3 linked regions of the Homo sapiens genome follow. The protein of the gene in region 1 interacts with the protein of each later gene in a pairwise test. Each region holds a gene or a part of one and is shown in the gene's direction. Other genes may lie near its edges.

Region 1 (7,029 bases):
TTTGAGACAGAGTCTTGCTCTGTCCCCCAGGCTGGAGTGCAGTGGCAGGATCTCCACTCACTGCAAGCTCCACCTCCTGGGTTCACACCATTCTCCTGCCTCAGCCTCCCAAGTAGCTGGGACTACAGGCACCCGCCACCACACCCGGATAATTTTTTTTGTATTTTTAGTAGAGACGGGGTTTCACCATGTTAGCCAGGATGGTCTTGATCTTCTGACCTCGTGATCCACCCACCTCGGCCTCCCAAAGTGCTGGGATTACAGGCGTGAGCCACTGTGCCTGGCTGTTTTTAGACTTTTAATTCTGTTCCATTGATCTGTATAGATGCCTGTCCTTATGCCAGTACCACACTGTTTTGATTACTGTAGCTTTATAGTAAGTTCTGAAGATTTTATTCCTTGTTTTTGTTCTGTTCCTTCATTATTGACTTGGCTTTTTTGACAGTTTGATTATGACATCTAGGTGAGGCTGGCTCCCTTTTAGTTTATTTTACTTGGAATTCATTGAGCTTCTTGGGTGTAATTTTTTTCATGTCAAATTTGGAAAGTTTTTAGCCATTATTCTTTCAAATATTCTTTCTTCTTTTCTCTTCTGTATGTTGGTATGCTTAATAGTGTCCCTCAGGTTCTGTGACTCTGTTTATTTTTCTTCACTGTTTTTTCCTCCTGTTTCGCAGTTTGGGTAATCTCAATTGACCTGTCTTCAAGTTTGCTTGTTCTTTCTTCTAAATGCTAAAAAGTGGTTTTGAGCCCCTTTCATGAACGCTTATCTTTTCCCCCTTTTACTTTTGAACTCCAGAATTTGTATTTGATTCTTAAAAAAATGGTAATAATAATTTCTATCTCGTTATCAGTATCAATAGTGATACTGATATTTATTGATATTCTCTACTTAAAAGACGTTATTCCCATACTTTCCTTTAGTAATTTTTGCATAGTTTTCTTAGCTCTTTGAGCATATTTAAAATAGGTGATTTAGAGACTGTTTTCTGCTAAGTTCTTCATATGTGGGCTTCCTCAGGGACAGATTTTATTGATTGCTTTCTTTTTCCTATGTATGGGCCATACTTTGTTGTTTCTTTGTCTAATTTTTTTTTTTTTGCTGTTATTGAGAAATGGATTTTTAAATAACACAATGGGGTGACTCAGGAAATCAGATGCTCCTTTCTTCCCATGGTTGCTATTGGTACGTGATATAGTTGTTCTTGTTTAATGACTTTTCTGAACTAATTCTGTAAAGTTTGTATTCTTTATTGTGTCTGACCAGTGAAATCTGTACTTGGTGAACTTAGTGGCCAAGTAATTATTAGATGGCGATTTCCTTAAACTCCTGGGATCAGTAAACACCTGTTTTTGTCGAGGGGCTTCATCTACCTGTTGGAGCATACCTTCATTGCTTGGCCTAACAGTTAAAAACTGCCTTAGCCTTTATTTCCTGCTGATGTTGAGTCAAAGTCAGCCAGAGGTGAGAGCTTAAGGCCTTCTTAGGTTTTTCCTGAGTGTGCAGTGAAGCTCTGTACATTCATGTGTCTTTCTAGATTCCTGGGAAAATGTCAAAGCTTTTCAAAGCCCCCACGGACATTTTATTTCCCACCTTTGCCTTTGGTTTGCCTCAGTTGTTATCTGCCACCTCAGGAGGCTGCAAAGTTAAAACACTTGCCGTATTTTCAACAGACACTCCTGGGTTGGGAGGAAGGCTTTTCTGAGTTTAGCCAGAAACAGTCAGTCAGTCTTGCAAATGAGGTCTTACAGGGAACCATCAGACAGGTCAAATGATGACAGTTCTTTGAGAATGAAGCTTTGAAAGAGCTCTAAGAGCACTGTTTTCTCCAGCGATGGCTGCTACGCTGTACCAGGAATGCGGCCTGCTGAGAGCCTGGAGAGTGGGGATGGGTCTAGGCCAAATTAAAATATCACAGAGCTCACTGTTCTTACTGAGATGTGGTTGTTTTCCTTGAATTAATGCTCCCTGGGTTCCTGCAAACCTTTGGTTAGTTTCCAAAATCCATAAGAAGTTGATACTGACAATTTTTGCCAACTTTTTGGTTGCTTTTATGGAGGAGAGCTTTTTGGAGGCCTGTAGTAACCACCATTTTCACTGACATCCTTTGGATCAGGAATCTCTTAAATCTTTTTTGTTTTCCTGAGGGTTCTTGCTGCCCTTCTTTTTTATCTTGTTATCAAAAATAGTATACTTCATCATAACCTCAGAATTACCCAGATTCATTAATACTGAGTATTGTCTAGAAATCTCTTTCTGCCTGAACTCCACTCTAGACTGGTTATTTCCTGTTCTGCTGTATAGCTACACTCCTGGTATTTTCTTCCTGCGTTTATAGATTAAATGCAGTTTTTGGACTTGAGTTGGATATTCCTCTTTTTCAGTTTTCATCCTCATTTTGTTTTTCTCAAAGTGATATATAATGTAGAATTGTTGTATATCTTAAAATGCATTTATTTTAACTTTTCACTTATTTCTCAGTTTGGGTGTATGTAGAATTCTAGCTTAAAAATAATTTTCCCTTGTTAGGATTGAAAGGGATATCTTCTTACACTCTGTGTAATTGATTCTGGAAGTCTATTCCATCTCTTTGTGAGTAAGCTTTTTCTCCTCCTTGGAACTTTCAGGACCTTTTTAAAAACACCCAGTGTCATAAAATTTCATGAGTCTTTCATTCATTCTGCTTAGCTCTTGGTGGGACTTTTCAATCTGGAGGCATATTTTCCTTTGGCTCTGGAAAATTATCTTATTACTGTCATAATTTCTGGAATGCCAAATTGATTGCCTGAATTGATCTGTGTTTCTACCTTGATTTCTTTGACTTTATCTTCCAGCCTCTTTATTGAAGTTTAATTTTAGCTACTGTATTTTAAATTCTTGTGTTCTTTCTTTTTGGCCTAATTGTTCTATTTTCATATTTTATTCTGGTTATATGGATATAGTGTCTTCTCAGATCTCTGTGAAGACATAAAATAGAAATATTTTTGGATATCTTTTTTCCAAATTAGCTCTGTATTTTTTTTTAACTTGTTTTCATCTGCCTGTTTTTTCTCACAAGATGCAGTCTTCAGTTCTCTAGTTTTTTTTTTTTTTTTTTTTGAGACAGAATTTCACTCCTGTTGCTCAGGCTCCTGTTGCAATGGTGCAGTCTCGGCTCACCGCAACCTCTGCCTCCCAGGTTCAAGCGATTCTCCTGCCTCAGCCTCCGGAGTAGCTGGGGTTACAGGCATACAACACCACGCCTGGCTAATTTTGTATTTTTGGTAGAGACGGGGTTTCTCCATGTTGGTCAGGCTGGTCTCGAACTGTCAACCTTAGGTGATCTGCCTGCCTCGGCCTCCTAAAGTGCTGAGATTACAGGTGTGAGCCACCATGCCCGGTCTTTTTTTTTTTTTTAATACAAAAATATTTTTCTCCCATTCTCTTGAGTGTGGGACCGTATTGATGGGTTTGTCTACTGTGTGTCTGAAACCTGCTCGTCCCACCACCACCGACAGCTGAGTGGATTGACCAGTCAGCTTTGCTTTATAGGACATAGGGTCTTGGCATCCTAATGCTTGAGTGAGTAGGACTTCACTTGACACACAGGCATCCACACTAGGTCCTCAGACTGCTGGTCAGTGTCTTTGGAGCAAGGTCCTCCATTCTTCTGTAGCAAACAGAGGGATTCCTGTCCCTTTCAGTGGGGCGTCCAGGGCCACAGCAGTTCCCACATGTGCCCCTGGCCTTGCTCCTGCTCTGCATACCTGCCGACTCCCAACTGGAGCCTATGTAGCTGTGGCTTCTGGATGTCTCCTACCCTATAGGATTTGTCTCCTGTGCCCCTCCTCCTTTTGTCTTCTGCAGATTTGTTGACATCTCATCTGTTCCTGGCCTCCCTCTTCCCCCATTTTCACTGTCTGGGGTTTTTCTCTTCATGCCTATTATGCCTGCAGTTCACAAGAGGTCAGAGAGATGGCTGTCTGTTCCCAGTGTGACATCTTCACCTGGGACCTCTGGAAGCATTTCTTGTCTGGTTTTCTCCCTTGATGATTTGGTTCATTCCCCTGGGTAGGCAGTGTGAGAAGCTTCCCCAAATTTGGAAATTATTATGTTATATAGAGCTGGGTGGGAGAATTATATTTGTTAAGTGAGCTTGTTCTTGTGAAGGCAGGCTGAGGAGCCTTGGGCCCTCTGTGTCGTGTTTCCATTGCACACAAGTTCATGGTTAGACATGATTTGGCCCAACATGTGTCTGGATCATTTCAGGAGTGAGTGGATCTGTTGTTCCATTTGCTCACGTTCCTCATGGTGTTAGAAGGTAGGGAGTGAAGCTCAGTTGCCTATTGTTCAATAGGACTAGCCAAGTAAATACCCTTTTCCGTGGTAAATTCCCCTATGAAAGGTCATGCAAGTGGAACTGCGATCTCATGAGAGGATGCTTCCTTGGAGTCTGCATGTGAACCTGGCAGAGCCGCCTGTGGTTAGCAGAATATCTTCGCTGTGTCCCCCAGTGGGCAGCCTTCTGCCACCTTCTCCCCTCACTGCATGGCTCAGGAACTATCTTTCATTTAGTAACTATCTGATGGGCTGGATGTGGTGGCTCACATGTGTCATCCCAGCACTTTGGGAGGCTGAGGCAGTAGGATCACTTGGGGCCAAGAGTTCGAGACCAGCCTGGGCAACAGCAAGACCCCTGTCTCTACAAAAAATAAAAATAAAATTAGCCAGGCATGGTGGCACGTACCTGTAGTCCCAGTTACTCGGGAGGCTGAGGTGGAGGGATTGCTTCAGCCCAGGAGTTTGATGCAGCAGTGAGCTGGGATCACGCCACTGCACTCCAGCCTGGGCAATGCAGTGAGGCCGTGTCTCTTAAAGAAAAAGAAGAAAAACTGACAGCGGTGACTCCTGCACATCATTTCTCCCATTTCCATTTTTTATTTACGAATATTTAAACTACAGTTAGGTTATGGTATTGTATTTCATTGGAAATACTAAACTCCAGTTTGGAAAATCTATCAGTTTGGGTTGTCTTTTTTTCCAATCATTTTATAAGCGTTTAATGAGCCATCTACCAAATGACATGGAGAGTAGCTTCCAAATTATTTTTATTCCACATACCTATTAGAAAAAAGTTTTAAGTACTTGATCCCAGTGTCTTCTTAATGCATACATTATACAGATACAAAATGTAAATGGAAGTTCTGTTTTATTTCCTCTTCTAATTACTGACCTGTGAACCTCCTGGGGTATGCATACCCTGCTTTGGAGACTGCTGGCTGGAATACATGATATGAAGTAAAAGGAACCCTACTCCCACAGCTGCCAGTCCAGTTCTGGAGACGGACAAGTGGTGGGGCAGGGATAGGTGTTCCTAGGGCGGTGGGGAAGGCCATGGGGCCAGTCTCTGCCTAGGACAGGCTCAGAGGGAGGAGGGTGAGCTGAGGCTTTTAGAGGCTTGGTTTTGTAAAGAACCAAGACAAAATGCAAAACCATGTGCGAGTGTTGGTGGTATATTGGTGAGCATAGCTGCCTTCCAAAACCAAAGGAGTTGGTCTCATACTCTTGGATGAAGACCAGGCTATAGTCAACCAGGCAGTGCAGTGGCTCATGGAAGGAAGAGGTGGTGCTTGTCTCTTGTACAGCAGTCCTGGGGTGAGCAATTCAGGGTGTGCAGCCCCCTCAGCTTTCTTGGTTGCTGTGGTCCAGGGCTGGGCTCCTGCGTCTCCCAGGTAGCCACAAGGGGAGGCAAGGAAGAAATACCACTTGTCTCCTCTGCTCACTTTTTGCTGTGACAATTGGTCTCCGTTAACTGGAGAAGGGAGAAGAAGATTGGGTCACAGCAGCTTCCACCACAGCATTTTACGTTACCAGTTATGCTGAGAAAGATTTTCTGGTGGATTTACTAAATGAGCTGACATCTTCAGGTTGCTCTAGGTATAAATTAGGCTGGTATGGTTTTCTTCACTGAGATGCCTGGTGAGCCTGATGACAGCGCTGTAGTGTGCAGTCAGGTACCTTGGAAACCATCACCACTCCCACCGTACAGCACACCAGTGGTCACCCTGATAGGAGAGATGATTTTCTTCTGCTGTGTCCCCAGGTCTCAGTGGCCCTTAGCAGCAGCTCCATTCGTGTGGCCATGCTGGAGGAAAATGGGGAGCGCGTCCTCATGGAAGGGAAGCTCACCCACAAGATCAACACTGAGAGTTCTCTCTGGAGTCTCGAGCCCGGGAAGTGCGTTTTGGTAAGTTTGGGCACCTGTGTGTAGGGCTCCCAGGTGGACTTCAAACCTGCAGTGATGCCCCTTTTGACCAACAAGCCTATTTACACTTAAGCAGTGAGGTTGTTAATTTCAGCTGCTGGGGCAGATGGGTTTTCCTGAGCATTTTCCATACTGCTCAGAGATCGTCTCTGTGGGCACTTGAGCTTTGGCCCTTTGAGGTCTTGGTCATTCCCAAGAGCTCCACTGTTCTTACATCTAAGGCAAAAACAAGTAAATTGAAAATGAAAAGCTAGGTTGAATTTTTACAGATGCTACTCTGGAGGGTACAGAGTTAATAAATTCAGAGAATCAGGCTCATTGACCAACTGGCTGTCCTTAGCCAGCTGCTGGTTAGGCATAGCTAAGAGTTCAGGACAGTGAGATTAAGGTGTGACTCCAAATGAACAGCTCACATGTTACCAGTTAGCAGACTCGCTCACAAATTGGGCTGCACGCCTGGGCCAGATCTGTTGGTGGCTCAGCTCCTTCTCCCCTGTGAAAGCTTTGAACCTTGTCAGTGGTGGCTCTGTGCTGGTGCCCAAGTGGAGGTCACCTACAGATAAATTGAGGCACAACATGTTCTGAACTAACTTGTTTCCTTTTTTTCTCCTACTGGGGTGTTTACAGGGCATGGTAAAAGGAATAAAGGTGAAAAGAAAAATATAATGTCTGGACAAAAGTCTTTAGAATTTTATACAGATATATTCTTCATATGTGCAAAGTATGCAATAAAGGTATCTGTTTTGGTTTCTATAAGACATGCTTGGCAGGCTTCTGCCTGGGC
Region 2 (6,942 bases), on another chromosome or scaffold:
CTTCTAATTTAGGAGAAAGGAAGGAAATGTGAATCTTTTTCTTCTCTGAACAAGGAAATAAGAATTTGTTAAAAAAAAAAAGATTGAGCATTGACAATTACTGATTACAAAATAAAATAATATTATAGTTTTAAATAAAAACATCTCCATGTGAACAAACTTCGCTTTGTATTTTAGTATCTGTTTGAGTAGGTTTGTACTGCAAAGCGGAAAAATGAAATCTCCCAGGCACCATTTGCCAAGGGATTTGCTCCCCTTCTTTGTCTGTTCAGATTAATCCGAGAGTGGCTGAGAGCTGCCCATTTTATCTCTGGGTTGAGGCAAAAGGGAGCAGTGTTTTCCAAAATAGCCCATGAGATGGCTGGACTCCCTCAGACAGGATTTGGGGGAGGACAAAGGAACCATGTGGGCATTTTATGTAGAGTATCTGGACCGGGTGCCCTGTCATTTGGAAGGCATCTGTTCCTGCCATTTGCACATCTTCCGGTAATCCTCCATTGATCGCCACCCCGCGTTCCTTCCTGCCCACTTGTGCCGGCCCTCCCCGCAGTGCCCTCTGACGTGAGGCCCTTCTTTCACTGCTCTAATTCAATGGCTTCTAATTGGATGCTCTGCCTGGCTAATGGCTTCTACCCAACTGCAGGGCTGACATTTACTTATTTGATTTCCACCCCTCCCTCTGCTCTCTGGCCTCCTTTGTGAGCAGAGCTTAAATTAGGCAGGATTTTAGATCCAGCACCTTTTTATATTTTGGTGTGGGCCTCTTGTTTTTTGAGCTGGGAGGGGTGGCTGAGTAGAGAAGAGCCTTGGAAATATACGCTGAGCTGATCAATCCTGAACCCTGCAGATAAACCCAGCTTTGTGACTTATCTGTGTCCCAGAATCCCAGCTGCCTCTGGGCTGCTTTCTTTGTTTGCATTTTAACCTGGACCCTAGCCTGCTAATTTCGGCTGGAACAAACTTTATTCTGTCACTGAATATCAGACCAATGCCAAAAGAGTCGTTGTTTGTTTTCATCACTGGAAAGGTTCTGGGCTAAATGTTAGACCTCTTCATCTCCAGGGTTTGACATTGAGAATTGTAATGTAGGGCTACAATCATCTTAGTGATTATCTTAGTTATCACAATCTGAACTCATCCTCCTTTCTTCCCTGTCCCTAGATATAAACATTTCTGGAGGGATGAGAGCCATGATCCTGAAAGGATTTCATCTTTGAAGCCTCTTCATCACCATCTTTGCATTTGCCTCTTTTTCTTTCTTTCTTTCTTTCTTTTTTTTTTTTTTTTTTTTGAGACAGAGTCTCACTCTGTTGCCCAGGCTGGAGTGCAGTGGCGCGATCTGGGCTCACTGCAAGCTCTGCCTCCCGGGTTCACGCCATTCTCCTGCCTCAGCCTCCCAAGCAGCTGGGACTACAGGCGCCCGCCACCAAGCCCAGCTAATTTTTTTTTTGTATCTTTAGTAGAGACGGAGTTTCACTGTGTTAGCCAGGATGGTCTCGATCTCCTGACCTCGTGATCTGCCCGCCTCGGCCTCCCAAAGTGCTGGGATTACAGGCTTGAGCCACCGCGCCTGGCCACATTTGCCTCTTTTTCAGTCTTGTAATCCCAAACAAAATAGAAGAGCCATCGCCCATCCATATTTGCTTAGAATGGATATTTACAAATTGAGTTTAAATTGTTCTCGGATGTGAAATATCTTATTTATTTATTTATAGACTTCACCCCATAGAACAAACAGAGACAAACAGCAAGCTTCCCTTTGGTTTGGGACCACTTGGCAGCATGACTCCAATCTCCACTATCACCCAAGCAGTTATGGTTCAGGCAAGCTGTCAGCTTGAGGTCTGTAGTCTATCTCCAGGGATTACTTTTACTTGATTCTTAATTACATACTATTCTCCATCCTCCCAGTCCCTTCACACACACACACACATACACACACAATTCCTCTTTAATTAGGTTGTAGCAGTCTCCTCCAGGTATATCTAACTCAGTTCATCATGGGCTGTTCTGATGGACAGCAGTCTGCCCTGGCCAACACTTCATTAGGTGTGACACCTTGCAGCCAATGGTCCCCAGGCCACCTTGTTCAGGAACCAAAGTGCAGCCCAGCAGGGCATCTGGGAGACAAAGGGATAGTTGTGGTGGAGAAGTAATAGTGATGAAAAGGCTTCCAGAACAGGAGTAGGAAGCACCCTGCAGTGCAGTTCACTTTCTTATACTAGGATATGAAATTAGGAGAGGGTTAAGAAAGGCAACTCATTTACCCAGGTATTGCCTTTGCAGGTGACAGATTGATATTCAAGACTCAGGAAATAGCCAGAATAACTGAGTCTCAACAGATAGCCCATTACCTACAAAATCAATATGGCCTCTTTCTTATGCAATGCTCCTTTTCACTTTTTTTTTTTTTTTTTTTGAGACAGGGTCTTACTCTGTCACCCAGACTGGAATGCAGTGGCATGATCTCAGTTCACTGCAGCCTCGACTTCCTCAGGCTCAAATGATCCTCCCACCTCAGCCTCCCAACTACCTGGGACCACAGGTAAACACCACCATACCCGGCTAAGTTTTGTATTTCCTGTAGAGGTGGGGTTTTGCCATGTTGCCCAGACTAGTCTCAAATGATCCTCCTACCTTGGCCTCCCAAAGTGCTGGGATTATGGGCATGAGCTACTGCACCCAGCAATTCTCTATTTTACTTCTTTCTTCTAACATTCACTTTCTCTTTCCTCTCTTCCTGAAAAGATGGCTAGGGAGGAAGAAGGGAATAAATATTTCCTATGTTCTAGACACTCATGGCTGCTTTACCTGGTGATATAAACCTATATTTTAAAAAGTTGAGGTATAAATTACACACAATAAAACCCACAGTTTGATGGTTTTTGACAAATGTATACACCCTTATAACCACCACTCCATCAGTTATAACGACATGATTCATCCTCACACTTAATCCATGAGAGATTGGTGTCACTGGCTCCATTTTATAGCTGAGGAAAGGGAGGATCAGAAAGATTAACAACAATAGCCATAACAATGGCAAATACTATGAGCCAGGTACTGTTCTAAGCACGTTACACATATTACCTCATTTAATCCTCTCTACAACCCCATTGGTCCCATTTTACAGACGAAGAAACTTGCCAAAGGTCACACAGCTAAAGAGTTAGAGCAGGATTTCTGGTGCTCAGATTACCTTATTTCCCTTACAGTACCTCCAGAGAATTTTTTTTAAGTTCCCTCATTAGATTTTCTTTTATCCCAGAGAGAAAAATCTCCCCAAACAAAACTAAAGGCCATCGGAAGGAAAGCCATATCGATGCTAGCCCCCACTCCATCCCCGGCTTTCTTTAAACTACGGGCAGTCAGATTTAACATCATGGATAGAAAGGTTGGTCTTGAAGAAAAGCCTTGTTTTGCTACCCATTAAACAGTGGGCTTTTCATCTAAGAAAGTCCTTCAAGCCTTCTGCCCAAGTAAAGTGATCAAATTCCCCTGAGGTTCAGCTTGACCTGGTAAAACACGTTGCTTTGTGGAACGAGTTTCGCTTTGCCAGCGGTGCTGAGCATTTCCTTGGGAATCTCGCACCCACGCTGGACCACACTGATGCCTCCTCTGTGCATAGAAAGGCAAAGGTATGGGGTGGCTGTTTGGGACCTTCATATAAAAAGGTCAACCCACTTCTCTGCCTTTTACCCACAGCCCCACCCCTGAGGAGGGAAAAATCTGCAATTGTTGGATTAGGGCTGAGGTGCACATTTGCCCTTTGCATAACTGGCAGCGTTGCAAAGGACAGCCCCTTTCTCTCTTCCCTCCATTCTCTCCCATCTGGCAGAGGAGTCCGGCTCCCTAAATCTTCTTTTTGTTGGTTAGTTTCCATGGCAGTTATTGTCTGTGTGTGTGAGCGTGTCCGCCCCCTCACCCGCTCTCCTCGCAGAGCGGGCCTTTGCAGCTGAGACTGGGTGGAGGGAGAGGCGCGGAGACACTGGGGCTCTGACGAGCTGGCTGAGGCCCTCTCAGTAGGGGGGTCACGCCTCCTGGAACTCAGGGACCCCAAGTTTCTGTGCATTCAGGGCGGGGCTGGCCCCATGCCCTGTGCATAGGGGCCTGGCTGCATCCCAGTCGATCAGCCAGAGGCAGCAGCAGTGGACTCATCAATTGTGGAGGAAGCCCTGGGGACCCTGGGGACCTTGCCGACTCTATTCCCAGCCAGCTCCTAGGACAAGCCTCAGAGCCAACACCCGCTCGACCCTCTCCCGGCCCCTCCCCTTCTTTGTCTTTTGCAGATGATCGCCGGGTGTCGATCCTTTTCCCTCCAGTCAGGTAAGTTTTATTTCAATCCATCTATGCAGAGTGATGCCTTGGCATTCTGAGGGCCTGCTGGTGGGGAGACAGGCAGTGGTGTCTGTGAGAGGAGGGCTGCCCAGGTAGACAGGCTGGCATGGGGGTCAGGAGGGACAAGGGTCTCCAAGGGCCTTTTCTCCTCAGCTGGGCCTCTCTAGCTTTGAAGTTAAAGGTTCCTTCCCATCTGGTTTTAACCCAGCTAATTAACTCCAAAGATTGCTGTCCAGGGCACAGACTGACCAACATACAGCCAACCTCCAGAACTTCTGGCTTCTGATCCGAATTCAGCTCAACTTTATGGAATATCAAACAGAAAACCAAATATTGCATATTCTCACTTACAAACGTGGGAGGTAAACCCTGGATGCAGATGGACATCAAGATGGGAACAATAGACACTGGGAACTCAAAAAGGAGGGAGGGGGGGAGGGGGACAAGGGCTGAGAAACTTCCTATTAGGTTACTGTGTTCACTATACAGGTGACGGGATCAATAGAAACCCAAACCACAGCAACACGAAATACACCCTTGTGACAAACCTGCGCACATGCCCCTGGGTCTAAAATTAAGATTTTTAAAACTTATGGACTACCTACTATGTACATACACATTGCTGTGCTTGGCTCCGAAGGGAAAGTGCTTTGACAGCAATGGCACATAACATGGTTCCTGCCTTCCGATGCTTACCATCTGGTAAGAAAGAATATCTACATAGACAGGTATGGGGATTCCGGGGCCAGGCAAGCTAGATGTCACATCCCTGTTCTGGCTGTGTGACCTTGGGCAAGTCATTTAACCTCTCTAAGTCTAAGTTTTCACCTTTGTACAATGACAATAATAATAGTACCTACTTTATAGGCTAAATTATACACACACACAACTCACACACACACCAAACTCTGATCAGTTCATGACGCATATTGAGCACCATATACTTGTTAAAGATGATTATTATTGTTATTATTGACTTTTTATGAGGTTCAAATTATACAAAATATGTAAAGAATGTAGTGTGGTGTTTAGAATAATGAGTGGTGGTTATTATCATGCTAACATAGTTATAGATGAAGTTCTATAGAAACGGGAAAAATGACTCTTGCCTGCAGGGATCATGCAAGGCGTGGAGGAGGCGGCATTCAGGCCAAGCCCTGAAGGATGAATAGAATGTCAACAAGCAGGAAGGAGCATGTGAAGCAGAAAGCACAAAGCCAAGTATGGAGGCAGGAAATGAAAGGCCTATTGGGCATCAGGCAATAGAGTGGTTTGGCTGGAGCCCAGGCATTAAGCCTGGCTGAGAGGCTGGACTGGACTTTGGGCTCCCAGCATCTTGAGGACAAGGGCCAAGATTAGGGTGTGACACTGTGAACACTGGAATAACCAGCCTAGCACCAGGATGAGGGGGAGTGATACACTTTATAGAGAGCCAGGCTCAGAGCCTGAGACCAGCGTTTGGGTCCTGGCTGAGCTTCAGATTGAACTGGGTGCTCTGAGGCTAATTGCTTCACCTCTCTGAGTTTGTTTTGTCACCTATGAAATCAGCAGGTAAAATACCAAGTGCAATTCTTCAGGAGAAAGGAGAATTTGTGCGTCATCTTCATGACCCTGGGAAATATCCAAAGGAATCAATCATTTAACAAAGAGACTTACGTAAATTATCAAGTGCAATGCCTGACTCATTATAGTAGTTGAATGAATGATCTCTCCCATCATGATTAATTGCCTTATTCATCCATTCATTCATTCATTCCCTCATTCATTCAGTAAATATTCCTTGGGTCCCCATTGAATGCCAGGCATTAGTTTTGGTGATGGGAAAGAGTGATGAATGCACCTGCCTTGAGACACTTATAAGCAACTGAGGAAACTGGCAACCCGAGGACTTCTGGGTGCTCCCACCCTACCCCCAGCAGCTTCCATCCCACTGGCCATCTTCCAATTTCTCTCAAGGATTACTGCTTACAGATATTTATTTTTAGCAGATTTTAGGCTCCCAAGACATCTCCCATATAGGTCTTGAGAACATCTCCTGTCTGCCCTCTGCTGGTGAGGGATTGTAAGCGCTTTGCAATAAACAGCTCAATATTCATTACACATCAATACCAAGCATTGCTGCTGTCCATCACCCCTGAGATGAACTGAAGTGCCTTAATATTTAAAGAGGAATGAATTTGTAATTAGTACCTAAAGTTACATCAGAGTCATTCAAGAGGTTTTCTATTTAAATGCAAATTTAATCTTTCCAAAGAAAGCTAAAAGGTGATGAAAATAGATAGCAAAGGTTGAGGAAAGAGGCAAGAAAAGGGAGATGGCGCTGATGTGGAGCTGTCACTATTGTTGGCTTGTCTGTGGCCCATGCTCAGGACCAGGCTCTGAGGTGGAGCGAGCTGAGGTGGGGCCTGGATCCCTAAAGCCTAAGTCCCAATTGCCCTGCCTGTTCATGGGGGTAGCCCAAACCAGCAGCCATTTGAGTGGGTCCTCGCTGGGCTGCTGGTGGTCATCTTAGAATCATGGTGGCCTGAAGAGGATATGGGCTGTGGGGTTAGGCAGATCTGAGTTTGAATCCAGCATCCTGTTCTGCCTAACTCTAATAGCTTT
Region 3 (7,029 bases), on another chromosome or scaffold:
CTAGTCTGTTAAATCCTTAAGCTCTTGAAGGCTGTGCATCTGCATCCACTGAATTATAGCAAGGTTTGTTTCTTAAGGATTTTAGCAGTACCTCCTGAGGAATTAAAATGTCATCCTTGAGTTGACTTCATAGAGATACATTGCTTACACTGAGAAGAAATGACTACTATTATTTTTTAAAGATAATATAAGTATTATATTTTATCTTAACCCCTTTAATGGGGTAGTTTGTGTAATTGGAAAACATGGGACTATAGTTGCATTGAATTCAAGGTGACATTTATTGAGACCCTACATTGGAAAAGGTAGGATTCTGATAATTATGTAAGATGATTAAGTGTTAGTCTTTACTGCCGTAGGAGCTCAGAATCCAGGAGCAAATATACATACATAATGGAAATACAGGACAGTCTCTGCTAAGTTCTGTAAAAACAAGTGCTATTGAAATTGAGAATAAAAAGAGTGTAAGTCTAATTAAGGGAAATCTGACTATCTTAGAATGCTTCCAACGGTAGGTGGTTATGAGCTGGGCCTTAAAGAATGGCCCCAAATAAGGAAGGTAGTTTTTGAGGAAGGGTTTTTCTGGCAAGAAGTCAGCCCAGTGGAGGAAGGTGGAAAGGAAAGTTTCAGGTGTATTCCATTACCTGGGAGCAGACATGAATGAATGGAATGTAAGAGGGTAGAATGGGAGATCGGATGGGAGAGTTCAGTTGGAGAGCATGTCATGGAGAGCTTTGAATGGCAGTCTGGGTAATTTTTTTTTTTTTTGAGATGGAGTCTTGCTGTGTTGCCCAGGCTGGAGTGCAGTGGTGTGATCTCGGCTAACCGCAACATCCGCATCCCAGGTTCAAGGTATTCTCCTGCCTCAACGTCCCAAGTAGCTGAGATTACAGGCGCTGCTACTTTGCCCGGCTAATTTTTCATATTTTTAGTAGAGATGGGGTTTCACCGTGTTAGCCAGGCTGGTCTCAAACTCCTGACCTTGTGATTCACCTTCCTCAGCCTCCCAAAGTGCTGGGATTACAGGCTTGAGCCACCACAACCAGCTCAGTCTGGGTAATTTTTAAAATGCAGAATCATAAAGGTTTTCGAGCAAGAGAATGATGTGTGATCAGCTCTAGGTTTTTGTTTTTTGTTTTTTTTTTTTTAAAGACAGTCTCGCTCTGTTGCTTAGGCTGGAGTGCAGTGGCACAATCTTGGGTTCAGCGATTCTTGTGTCTCAGCCTCCCAGGTAGCTGGGATTACAGGCATGCACCACCACGCCTGGCTAATTTTTGTATTTTTTTTTAGTAGAGACGGGGTTTCACTATGTTGGCCAGGCTGGTCTTGAACTCCTGGCCTAAAGTCATCCACCCGCCTCAGCCTCCCAAAGCACTGGGCCACTGCACCTGGCCCAGCTCTGGTTTTAAGAAGAGAACTCTTGGCTGGGCGCGGTGGCTCACGCCTGTAATCCCTGCACTTTGGGAGGCCAAGGTGGGCGGATCATGAGGTCAGGAGATCGAGACCATCCTGGCTAACATGGTGAAACCCCATCTCTACTAAAAATACAAAAAAATTAGCTGGGCATGGTGGCGGGCACCTGTAGTCCTAGCTACTCGGGAGGCTGAGCCAGGAGAATGGTGTGAACCCGGGAGGCAGAGCTTGCAGTGAGCTGAAGATCGTGCCCCTGCACTCCAGCCTGGGTGACAGAGTGAGACTCCGTCTCAAAAAAAAAAAAAAAAAAAAAAAAAAGGAAGAGAACTCCTTTTAGGTAGATTGGGAGAAAGACAGCAAGGGGATCTACTAACACTATTGTGTTTAACCAAGGGAGAAATGCTGAAAGCCTGAAGAAGTGGTAGGAGTAGAAAAGAGGGGCCGATGTGAGGAATGTCATAGATTCAACAGCTGATTGCTTCCTTGGCTGACAGCATACAGGAGATGAAGGAGAGAAAGGAGTTGACAGTCGTCTCAGGGTCTCTGGCCGGTTGTCTGAGAGAATGAGGTATACTGAAGGAGAAGCTGACAGGAAGGGAGAAGAGGGGAGATGATGAGCTCGATTTTATAGTTTAGAGCAAAGGAATCATTGGATAACCCAAAAGAGCTGTCCAGCAGGCAAAGGGAAATGTGGGTTTGCAGCTGAGAAGGAGGGAGGTAGCTGAATGTAGAGATCTGGGGATTGTTTGCTTGGATGGTGGCTCTGGGTATGGGGATGAATAAGATGCCTTGGTAGGGTGGGACCAGCAATACAGCTATGGGCAGAATCCTAGGAAACGGGCAGAGTTGAGGGATAAGCTGAGGAACAAGAGGGTGTGAAGAGCCGAGAGGAAGCAGTATGTGATAAAGGAGGACCTGTGGAGAGTTGTGTGAAGTGGGGAGAGAACTTTCCTGGCCCTGCCATTTATTTACCTGCCTTGCCATCGGCAAGTAGACTAAGCTCTTGGGCCTTACCTTCCAGTGAAATCAGAAAGTTAGACTACATAAACTTTACAGGCTCTTCAATGAGAAAAGATCTTAGGAAAAAAAATTGAAATCAATTCAAATGGATATTGTGGTTTTCTCTGAATCCCTCTAGCTGTTTGTTCATATCACTCATCTAACACTGAATACAGACTGCTGTGTGTTGATGTTTTATACTTCTGTGTAAACTTTTGAGCCGTGACAGATGGTGTCACTCCCATTCTTGATTATTCATTTGTTCACTCATTCATGTCTAACATATCTGCTGTGTGCATCCTACATGCTGCTATATACTCAGTGCTAGGAGCACAGTGAGCAAGGCACAGTCCCAGAGCCTCAGTGGCTTAGAGGGGTTAACTAACAAGAAAAAACGCAATTACAGCTCAGGAAGAAAAAGTTCCTATCCACAACAATAGAACATGTGTTGTATTTGAGTAAAAGAGAAAAAATGATTAGGAATCACTTTACTTAAATATTTTTACTGCTATAGGAAGACAGATGGCTTTCTTAACATATGAATCAAAAATTGGGGTGTTTTGATAAACTTCAAGTAATTTAAGAAAAGCCTAGTGAGTGATGTTGAATCACTTTTACCAACTGATAAAATATTTGAACTATCATTTTCACAATAACCATTAGTTGAATGATTCATATAATTGATATAAGCAGTGTTTCACAAGTACTTGAAACAAGTAAATCCTATAAAAATTCAACATATAAATAACTGGAAAGTAAAAAATGAGTTTTTAACAAGTAGGATAATTATTTTCTTGGATGTCAGTAACGAGAAAAATATGTGGAAATGAAGCAAAAATGCAATCTTCTAAGACTTTCCTTAGCTGTCAAAACCTAGGGAGGGCCAGGCACGGTGGCTCACGCCTGTAATCTCAGTGCATTATTTGAGTCCAGGAGTTCAAGACTAGCACCTGGGCAACATGGCAAAACCCCATCTCTATTAAAAATACAAAAATTAGCCAGGCATGGTGGTGCGCACCCGTAATCTCAGCTACAGTGCACACCTGTAATCTTGGCTACTTGGGTGGCTGAAGCATAAGAATCACTTGAACCCGGGAAGCAGAGGTTGCAGTGAGCCGAGATTGCGCCACTGCACTCCAGCCTGGGAGACAGAGCGAGACTCTGTCTCTAAAAAAAAAAAAAAAAAAACTGAGGGAGAACTTTACTGGTAAGAAGTTGTCTTCCACTCCTAAAGAGGAAATCACTTTTTTTTTTTTTTTTTTTAAGAGACAGGGTCTCACCGTGTTGCCCAGACTAGCCTTGAAGTCCTGGGCTCAAGCAATCCTCCAGCCTCAGCCTCCCCAGTAGCTAGGATTACAGGTGTGCACCACCACATTCATCTGGAAATCGCATTTCTGATTGTATTATTCTTTCTAAAGAGGGGCTTGCTTATAAGCTTTCCTTCTACGTTATAATGTGAGGACACATTGGGACACAAGCGTACAAAGTACAATTCATTCATTATTCAACACATATTTATCGAATTCTCACAAGGTGCCAGACAGTTGCCATTCTCCAATTAGGAATAGGTTAGTGAGCAGGACACAGTTCCTGTGCTGCCAGGAGGGAGAGAGAGACGATAAGAAACACACCTGGCTCACACCTGTAAGCCCTGCACTTTGAGAGGCTGAGGCAGAGGAGGATCTCTTGAGGCCAGGAGTTGTAGACCAGCCTGGGCAACAAAGGGAGACCCCATCTCTACAAAAATACAAAAATTAGCCAGTTGTGATGATGTGTACCTATAGTCCCAGCTTCTTGAGAGGCTGAGATGGGAGGATTACTTGAGCCCAGGAATTTGAGGCTATATTGAGCTATGATTGTGCCATTGCACTCCAACCTGGGTGACAGAGCAAGACCCTGTCTCTAGGAAAGAAAAGAAAAGAAACATTCCAGATAATGAGAAGTGCTATGGAGAGAATTAAAATAGGATGATGTGGTAGAGACGCCTGCCTGGCCACTTCAGGCTGGGTGGTCAGGGAATGCCCTTTGAAGAGGTGAGAGTAAGACAAGACCGGAATGACAGGAAGGACGCAGCTGTGCAGAGACCTGGGGAGAGGAGAGACTTCAAGGCAGAAGGAACAGCTCAGCGATAGTGCGCTAAATCTTTCCTTGCTTTAATTTGAATGCACTGACAAATCCTCCTCTTCCTTTGGGGCTCCAGCGAAAGGTTTTTAAGTGTAATTTTATGACTGATATTCCCAGAGAGTGAACTGACAGGCTAGGAGTGACGATAAAAGCGGGTGTGTGGAAGAAAACAGGGCAGAGACCAGGATGAGGCAAATGAGATGCTTCAGGCACAAAATGTAAGGCCATGCAGTGCAAATGACTCACAGAGTTCTGCCTCCCTGCATTTTGCACCCTAAGCACTTCGCTAGCCTCACTCTTGTCACAGCCCTGGGAAGAAGGGAGAAGTAGAGTTGTGAGATATGCTGGTGCTTTGAAGATCCAGCAGGTTTGGGTGTAGAGGGGGAGATAAAATGGAAAACATTAAAACAGCCTAGGAGGAGGACCGCCCCCCCCCCCCCCCATATACATACTTCCAGCCCCAGGACCCGGATCCCACACAGCAGCCCTCCGCCTGGGGGCACCCTTCACAGCTTCTCAGGATGATAGACTGTCATGCCCCACGAGTCTGGGTACGTTTCTTTAGCTTCTTGAGTTCATAACTGGACTGGCAGTGTGAGAAGCACACAAGGCCACCCTGTGTGGCACCTGTGACAGCAGGCATGCCAGATTGCCTGCCATTGGTTAAGGAGACAGCTGCCAAGACCTGAAGGGACACCACTGCTTATCGAGGGTATCTTTCTATAAGGATTCTACTGCTACCATCTTTTACAGATAGGTGTCAAGTAAAAGTTGTCTGTGTTGGGAAATTCCCAGAAAGGTGATCTGTTGGGTGAGTTCCTCCCTGGCCTCCTACAGAGCCAGCTAAGGACAAGCTGAAGGATAATGGCAGCATGGCAGGAACAGGCGATCTGAATTAGGTGACAGGGAATGATTTTCAGCCTCAGCGTTGCAGTATTGTGTGCCTGAATCAAAATACCACCACTCCCTATTTTTTGTGTGCTAAATTTTAAAGGATTATTACATTACCACACTGTGGAATCTCTTTTGTTTGTTATCCTTTAAAAAAATGCTGTTTTCTTTTTTTCTTTTTAAAAGAATATGGATTGTGCTCAGTTCCGTTTGAAAATAAGCTCTATCTAGTCGGCGGACAAACTACAATCACAGAATGCTATGACCCTGAACAAAATGAATGGAGAGAGATAGCTCCCATGATGGAAAGGAGGATGGAGTGCGGTGCCGTCATCATGAATGGATGTATTTATGTCACTGGAGGATACTCCTACTCAAAGGGAACGTATCTTCAGAGCATTGAGAAATATGATCCAGATCTTAATAAGTGGGAAATAGTGGGTAATCTTCCCAGTGCCATGCGGTCTCATGGGTGTGTTTGTGTGTATAATGTCTAATTGAATCTGCAGAAATGACCAAGCAATCACTTTTTTGGAGTATAGTTTTATAAAAAAAGAATGCAGGGTTTGAAGTTCCTTACCTGATAATTGTGTCTGGCACATGATAGGGGATCAGTAAATTGTAATTCCTAACCCTACTGTACTCCCAAACATGGTGATTCATGGTCAAGAAAAATCTTATATATATATATATATACACACACACATATATGTGTTCATATATATGTATACATATATATGTGTATATATACGTATGTATACATATATGTGTATATATACGTATGTATGTATACATATGTGTATATATAGTATGTATGTATACATGTATGTGTATATATACGTATGTATGTATACATATATGTGTATACATATATATGTGTGTATATATATACACATATATACGTATATATGTGTATATATATACACAGTTGAATCAGTGGGATTAATACCTATAATCTCTGGTTTTCAAAGGTAATATAGAATATTTGACACTTGGTAAAAGGTGAACTACCTTTGTAGTGAATCTTTTCCTCTTGGTAGCATCAACACTGGGGATAAATCAGAACCATTCTGTGGAATGAAATGTTTCTCAAGAGCCTATAATATAGTAGATAGTGCATATTAAGATGTCTGGCTGGGCATGGTGGCTCATGCCTGTAATCCCAGCACTTTGGGAGGCTGAGGCGGGAGGATCACTTGAGCCTAGAAGTTGGAGACTAACCTGGCGAGACCCTGTCTCAAAAAAAAAAAAAAATCAATTTAGCTAGCAGGAATTTGACATTTAAAGAGGGAATCTTCTCTACCTCTACAAAATCAACCCTTAACACTTTTTTCACCTTCAGAATTATTTAGAATGTGGATTTACTTTGTCTAGTTTTTTCCTTTATAGTGTAATTTATTGTTACTCTCTATTTACTGACTACCAGAGATATACAAAATACTGTGCAAAAGATTGTTACTGTTCAAAGAGCTTACAAACTAAATTTAAAAGAATAGCAAGTCTGAAAAATAGAAGATAGTCAAATATTTGTTTATGCTAAGAACTGTTTTTAATTTTCAGCTTTGATGTAAATTGCTAGCTTAGTTGTCTTTAGTTCAAGCA

Evidence for each region. The genes of interacting proteins can lie anywhere in the genome.
Region 2: the proteins of NUDCD3 (region 1) and KLHDC8A interact in binary tests that used the Homo sapiens proteins (3 or more experiments, as listed by UniProt).
Region 3: the proteins of NUDCD3 (region 1) and KLHL23 interact in binary tests that used the Homo sapiens proteins (3 or more experiments, as listed by UniProt).

The regions. Positions count from the first base shown.
Region 1 is NC_000007.14:44,403,638-44,410,666, reverse strand, and holds part of NUDCD3 (nudC domain-containing protein 3), read left to right. Parts: intron 1-6,083; coding exon 6,084-6,227; intron 6,228-7,029.
Region 2 is NC_000001.11:205,353,917-205,360,858, reverse strand, and holds the start of KLHDC8A (kelch domain-containing protein 8A), read left to right. Parts: upstream 1-3,936; 5' UTR 3,937-4,326; intron 4,327-6,942.
Region 3 is NC_000002.12:169,743,809-169,750,837, forward strand, and holds part of KLHL23 (kelch-like protein 23), read left to right. Parts: intron 1-5,613; coding exon 5,614-5,924; 3' UTR 5,925-7,029. Other genes in the region: PHOSPHO2-KLHL23 (kelch-like protein 23), read left to right, coding at 5,614-5,924.